Homo sapiens: one gene and its partner. The protein of the gene in region 2 purifies or fractionates together with the protein of the main gene of each other region. This does not show direct contact. Each region holds a gene or a part of one and is shown on either strand. Other genes may lie near its edges. The genes, in order: TRAPPC9 and CRTAC1.

Evidence for each region.
Region 1: the proteins of CRTAC1 (region 2) and TRAPPC9 purify together in Homo sapiens (affinity purification with mass spectrometry; 2 studies listed by BioGRID and IntAct, with this or other methods). This does not show direct contact.

Annotation. Positions count from the first base shown.
Region 1 is NC_000008.11:139,727,153-139,730,726, forward strand, and holds the end of TRAPPC9 (trafficking protein particle complex subunit 9), read right to left. Parts: 3' UTR 573-3,574; downstream 1-572. UniProt on the Homo sapiens protein: Functions as an activator of NF-kappa-B through increased phosphorylation of the IKK complex. May function in neuronal cells differentiation. May play a role in vesicular transport from endoplasmic reticulum to Golgi.
Region 2 is NC_000010.11:97,894,386-97,898,199, forward strand, and holds part of CRTAC1 (cartilage acidic protein 1 isoform A precursor), read right to left. Parts: intron 2,607-3,814; coding exon 2,524-2,606; intron 1,601-2,523; coding exon 1,500-1,600; intron 1,029-1,499; coding exon 860-1,028; intron 1-859.

The DNA of each region.
Region 1 (3,574 bases), on a different chromosome or scaffold from region 2:
CTACTCTCCTAGTAGGGTGGGAAGAGGATTATTTTTAGTTCATCCTTTACTAAAGGTGTAATCTTTAGGCTCTCAAATTGATGCGGAGCAGTCATCTATTCGATTCCCCAGCCAGTGGGCCCTGAGCTTTGTCATCTTTCCTCCAGTTTTGGAAGGCTGAAGACATTGATACTCCAGCTTTGGCAAAACCCCTCAAAGTGGAAGTTGGCATCAGTGCACAGCTCACCTCCCAGGACTTTGCCTACACACAGGTACTGGGGTGAATATTTCTGACTCTCCTGCCGGGTCATGGATGCACTTACAAATGTGTTTTCAGTAAGAGGCTTAGCCTAGACCCTTAGTCTAGATCTCTAGCCCTTCATGTTGAAAGCCTTTTTTGATCAAAATTTATTGTGTCTTAAGACATTGCTTGAGGCCCCAAGAGCCATGTGGTCACATACATCTCTCTCTCTTCCCTGCTTACTGGGATCAGAAATACCTCTTAACAAGTCATCATTGACAATTTCTTGGCTGGTAGGCTCAGAAGCCCCAAATGATGCTTACATGTTTTGAAACCATCTACAGGTCCGGACTTTGCTTGAATACTTCTATTGACAAAGAGCTCACTCCATCAGCATTTCCTGTCCCATTTCAGCACCTGTGTTAGAAAGTTCTTCCTTACATGCTTCATGTTACCTAATACATTAAGCCATGCAGGGGACTAACGGAGCATAGCAATGTGGCCTGTTAAGGGTTCCAGGAGAAGAATGGAATTTCAGGCACATGGCACAGGATATTTCAGGCACAGGACATGTGGATGGAATTAAAAAGAACAGCAATGGGAAGGCTAGGAGAAGGGACCCAGTATTTATTAAGAAGTTGCTATCATGTGCTAAAAAAAAATCTAGGAGGTTAAATCAAATAAACTGATATGAAAGTGTCCATGAAATAAGTATTTTTATCTCTATTTATTCAGATGAAAAAAAATCAAGGCTTAATTTAAGTAACTTGTCCAAGGTCAAGGAGTTGACAAGTGGCTGAGCTGGAGTTCAGCATCTCAGACATCTTCCTTTGAATCCTTGCCTTCCTTGTGAATTTCAGATGACGGAGCATGACGGCTGCATGATTATGGGGTCACCGGGCCTGTCCTGGCCCTGAGGGACCAAGGATCAGAAGGGCAGAACCAACTCGCTCAGCTAGTGAAGTGCAATGGACATGATCTGTTCCTGGCTTACCCTCCGCTGGCCTTCAGGAGGTTTCTGAATGCACCAGGGGCCTAGAGAAGCAGCAACTGCTGGACTGTATTGCCAGGTAGCCAGTAGCGTGGGGCCCTGGAAGAGGCTGGAGGATACTGCGCTGTCACTGAGACACCTGCCCCAGGTCCTCCATCTCAGCCACTGCCCACAAACACAGCTCCACAGCCAGAAAGACCCAGCCACAGAAATGCCAGCAAACAACACCCCTGGCTCCCCACATCCCACGGTAAAGCTCCAAACGCTTGGAGCACACACAAGGCCTGACTCCAGGTCACCTTCTCTACTGGGACAGAAAGGGTGCCCTGGGGGTGGGGAAGGGCCTGGGGCTGGCAGAGCCAGGCTGTATTTGGGTCATTTTCCAGGAGGCCTGGGTTATTTCTAACACCCCCTCCTCCAAGAAGACAACTTTGCCTCCTGCCCCTTGAGGTTCTTCCTTCTTGTGGCATCCAGCATTTTCTCTGGTAACTGTTGTGGGTATTTTTTGCAGTTTGGGAAACTAAAAAATATAGAAAACTGCAAGAAATAATTACAGTCACCAATATGCTTGCCACTCAGAATCAAACACTGCCAGAGTTTTCCATATTGGCTTTTCTAGGCTTCTATATGCATCTATATCTAATCTGGATCTGTGGCTGGATCTATATCTGTAGCTATGTGTGTACCTGTATCTTGATCTATTGTGCTTTTGAAAGGAAAGTACGTACTCAAGTCCCCGGTGACCAGCACCCTCATGCTGACATCAGATGTCAAATGCAACTCCAGTTCAGGTCACTCTTCTACAGGGGATGTGTATCCTTTCTACCTTTTAAACATGTTGTTATAGACACGTTCTGAGGCATAGAAAATTTATAATTTGGGGGGACATTGTCTACACAAGTGAGGTTGGGCTGAGCCCATCATCCTGCAATGTGTTGTTTCATTCAATGGCGTATTTTTGGGCTCTGTTGAGGTTGACACACATGGATGCTGTTTGTTCCATTCAGAAACAGCCCAGGTGGCCAGGCCCTCAACTACGCTGAGGCATCCTGAACGGAAGGGCTGAAGAGACCGCCCTGGGGTCTCCACCCCCTACTGCAGCCAGACCTTCTGGGGCTGCCTTCCCTGGGGAGCCTCGAGCAGATGCTGAATGAGCTCCAGGAACTGAGGGCCACTGGACACCCGCCCCCACATGCCCCCAGCCCACACCACATCACAGTGTGCTCCCATCATTCACTGAGCGACAACAGGAGGCCACAGATGGAACAAAAAATTTGTTCCTTAGGCCGGAGGCCACAGGGTGACCTTGCTCCCAGCGAGGGAGGTTTGGGCCTGGGACTTCAGGTCCTCAGGAAGTTCCCTCAGCCCCGCAGGCCTCCTGATGCCAACATGACTCTGCCCCATGGGAGGCCAGGGCAGCCACTTCCTGGCTCTGCCTGTTTGGCCAACTGGCCTTTAGGAAGCCCCGCTCTCTGTCCCCCAATACTCCATGGGAGTTTCAGTGCCCAACGGGCACCTGACGAGCCTGGTATCTGCTGGGGACCAAGGGCTGTTTATCCTCCCTGGGACCTGGGGAGCTAAGGGTCAACACAGCCAGAAGCCTGCCCCCAGAACAGGACTCTTGTGGGTAGTGTAGACACACCCCAGCTCTGGCCCTCAAGGGAGATGTGAGCCGTGTGCTTTCTCTCTCCGGTCCTCCCTGAGGAACGCAGGGCCAGCTGCCCACTGTGGCGGCAGCTCGGGCCCAGTCACACTCCTTCACTGGTGATCTCCCTCCCCTGCAGGCCTCCTTCCACCTCCCAGACAAGCTGCTGGTGACCAGATTCCTGTCTCAGCGTTTGCTTATGTGAGATCTCTAACTCAGAACCCGTCCCTTCCTGGGTCCGGCTTCTGCTGGGAAGCCAGCCACCTGAGGTGGGGGCTGACGGGCTGGGTGGGGGCCCCGGACTGCACTGGGCTAGCAGATGCAGGGAGGCAGGGAGGGGGAGGCAGGCCATTTATTGAAGAACTGCTTGCAGACATGGACACACACAGCCATGGTAACCAGACGCCACCCTGGGGCCAGGGAGCACCCAGAAACAGCCCTGGGCTGCCAGCCCAGGCCTGGACATTTGCCCACCACGGGTGGAGGGCCTCTCTTGGCATCAACCATCCACGACCTCCTACGGCACCATCTCTCCTGCCAAGTTGCCCATGGGGGTCTCCAGGAAGAAAACCAGCCTTGGGGGATTCCAAGGCCCAGGGAGGGTGGGAAGCTGCCCACGCCCTCAGGCTGTGCCCAGTCTCATGCTCACCATTTCTTTCTATGGCCAAAGGGAAGTCGCTGGACGAGGGAGGTCCCTCTGCTGGGATGAGCAGCACAG
Region 2 (3,814 bases):
CATGTTGATGCTTTTTTTATTTTTTGAGACAGAGTCTCACTCACTCCAGCATAGGCTGGAGTGCAGTGGTGCAATCACGGCTCACTGCAGCCTCTACCTCCCTGGGCTCAGGCGAGCCTCCCACCTCAGTCTCCCAGGTAGCTGGGACTACAGGCATGCGCCACCACGCTTGGCTATTTTTTTTGTACTTTTGGTAGAGATGAGGTTTCGCCATGTTGCCCAGGCTAGTCTCGAACTCTTGAGCTCAAGGGATCCACCTGCCTCAGCCTCCCAAAGTATTAGGATTATAGGCATGAGCCACTGTGCCCAGCCCCTGATGCTTTTACATATATATATATATATATATATATATATATATATATATATATATATATATATATGATAGGATTTTGTCATCCCCCTGCCCTTGCCAAGAACCCACTCTCTCCCCTTTGGGGTGACTTCACTCCCGTTGAGAACGCATGGTTTCCCAAGCCTTCTGTCCAAGACTGAACCAGCTCCCAAGAGGCCAGGGAAACAGCTGGTTTGGACACGTTTGGTGCAGCCCAGCATTTGAACAAGCCTACAGCCTTGAACAAATGGAGGATTAAACACTCTGACCCCAAGGTGAACTAATTCCACAGAGGCACTGGGGTGGGGACTCCAGCAAGTGAGATGCATGAAAATCTAACCAGCACTTCCCACTCGCCTCTTCTTGAGCTCAGGCTCATCTCAGAGTAGGGTTTGTCCCCAGTAGCTGGTGTCCACCATGGCTGTCACAGTAGAGCGGAGCGGTGCCCAAGGATGCTCGGGCTGTGAGTCCCTGAATCAGTCAGCATCCTGATAACAGCTCACTGTCCCCCACCGGACCCCGACTCACCCAGGCCAAAGTGTGCCACGGGCTCCATCTCACACAGGTAGCCTGAGCCCCCGTCGATGATCCTCAGGTGGGCCCCACTCTTCTTGGTGTAGAGCACGACCTTAGCTCCCCTGGCAAAGGCCCCAAACCGGGTGCGTGGCACCACTCGCAGCCAGTTGTTGTTGAAGCCCTGCAGAGAGGGTGAGAGGCAGACACCCGGTGGGCATCAGCATGGTGGGTGGGAAGAGCAGGGAGCCAGGGAGGACGGGAGGGGGAGAGGGAGAAGAAGGAGGAAGAGAAGAAAGCAGGCAGAGGAAAAAGATAGAAACAGGAAGCCAAACAAGAAAAATGAATGAGGCGAAGACAGATTGGCTGAATGAAGGAGAGGCACTGCAGACAGAGGAGACAAAAGCCGAGGGACTCAGGGCACAGTGTTTGGCAGATAAATGATACTGGAAGGCAGAGAGGCAAGGGCTTCTCCCAAGGCGGCCCTTCCTGAGCTTCCCGGTGCTGCTGGAATTTACTTCCCTCCTCCAGGGCCCGGGACTTCCATTACCCACCATGCTGGCCAAGCCAGCACCCCGGCACCTTGCCCTCACCAACTCAAGGTACCCGAGAGCACACAGGGCTGGGATCTGTGGCTCCTGAGGTCTTAGCGCACCTGATTGCCCCGGAAGACGGACAGCGGCTGAGCCATGGACTCTCCATGGGACAAGATGAGGTCCAGCATCCCGTCTCCGTCGAAGTCGGTCACCACACCCCCTACAAACAATGCAGATTTCACCTCTGGCCGTAATCCAGGAGACCCACAAAGGAGACACGCTCCCAACCAAGTGCAGTATCCACAGCCCTGGGCGTGGGAGCCAGAGAAAGCACAGCACCGGGGCAGGAAGGCTGGGGCTTGGCACCCATCTCCTATCCTTCCTAACAGCAGCCTCATGATAGGACTCACGGGACAGACATTTCCTTCCTTCCCCTGGTCTTTGCATGGAGAGGGTGTGTGCAAATTACTCAGACCACATGGTCTTCTTTCTGGTCTTTCTATTATGGTTTGAATAATACACACCTGTTATATTTGCACAGGTTTTTTTTTGTCAATTTACCAAGTGTTTGCATATACATAGGCTCCTTTTGGTCGTCATTACAACCCAAAGAGGTGAAGAGGGCAGATATAATTATCCCCATTTTATGAATGTGGAGAACAAGACCCAGAGGGTAAAGTCACTTTTCCAAGACCACAAAGTGAGGCAATGGCAGAGCTGGGTTCTGGGACCCCTGGCCCAGTGCTCTGTCTGACAACAAGCTGAGTGCCAAGAGGGGAGGGGTCAGATGGCAAGATCCTCTGCCTGAGAGCAGAAGGGGCTCTCTCCTCTCCTTTCCATCCCCACCTGGCAAGGCATGGCCAGAGAAGCTCCTGCCCACAGACCCACAGATTCCCATTCCCCCACCCCCCATCAGCCTGGGATTGGGGGAGTGGACCATCCTCTCCTCTGCTTCCTGCCTGGCCATCCCCAGGGTTCTCCCATCTCCACTCTCACCCCTGCCCTTGAGTCTCAGCCCTCAGTGTGGCAGGGACAGGAGTGGCTCTGCTGTGGGACTGGCTGCCCCGTCCCTCCCGCCCTCACCCCAGTGTATGAACAGTGCTAAGGGGGCAGTGCAGGCCAGATCCCCCAGGTGCCCCTCACCTGTGCCCCGGCCCTCAGGCTCCAAGGCGTCGCCGGGATTGAGCTCCTCGATGAGGGGGTCTCCGTGCTCTCTACGGATGACGCTGCAGGAGAGGAGACAGGCTTGCTCTGGTGGGGTCTCAGAGGCCGCTGGACCAGAAGGCCCACCTGCTCCATTCTGTCCCCTGAGCATCCCCGGGTCCCAATGTGCATGGGCTACCACCTGGCTGCCCACGGAGCCACTCTCTGCTCCCAGGCCCTGCCTATACTCTGCCTGTTCCCTGCCTGGGTTTTAATTTATGTTGGTAAATATTGATTTTTCCTTCTCTAATGGATGAATTATAGGCAGCCTGGGGAAGGGCAGTTGATGGATGAAGAAGGGGCAGGGACACAACTACCTTCAACCAACCTTCCTTGTCCTTCAAGTGGCCCCTGGGTTTCCTAGTTCTGGATGCTACCCAGGGTTTAACCCCACTCAATGCTACCTCCTCCATGCCCTCTTGGACCATCCTGCTGGAAGCAATCCCTTCTTTCTTCATGGGCTTTATTACTTTCTGCCTGTGTTACAGCTCTGTATAAATGCATCTGATCTCCCCTGGTAGAATGTGAGCTCTCTGCAGGCTGGGACCTTGCATTGTTCATCTTTGCTTCTCTTGCAGTATCTAACACAGTGCTTGGCTCTCAGAAAGCTCCAAGCACATGTCTGCAGGATACAAAGGTGAATTCCAGAGGCAAAGAGAGGAAAGGGGTCCCTTTGGGTTGCAGCGGTTCTGTTTGGAACTCTGAATCTTGATGTTATTTATTTCAGAAACGTCTGCTAGAAAAGTCCTGCTCTTTCTCTGCACTCAGCTGATGATGGCAGTGAGCTTTCCTCTAGAATTTTTCTCACTTGGTGTATTCTCACAGCCTTGGGTGCTCTGCCCTAGATGTGTGGGGCAATGATGGGAAGGTAGGGTGTAAGGAAGAATTGGCATCGCACTTCCTACCACATTGCAGGTTGCATGTGAGAAACACCAGAGGGCCGTGATACAGTCATAGCTTCAGGAGGGGGTCGGAGTCCCCTGAGCTGGAGCCTTTGGTGGCTGGGTGGCAGAAAGAGCTGGCAGATGCCCCATGAGGTGGGCTTGTGTGTTGGTGTGCATGAGTGTGATGCCCACAGTCCCTTTGACCATATGTGTCCTGCAGATTCTGCCACAGCTGTGCAGAGACACTTCTTGGTTCAGGTGACAATGCAGTTAAGGAGTCCTAAGGATAACACCCAGCAATCAATTCCACTGTATTTCTGTGTTCATTGAACACATTCTTAGGCAGC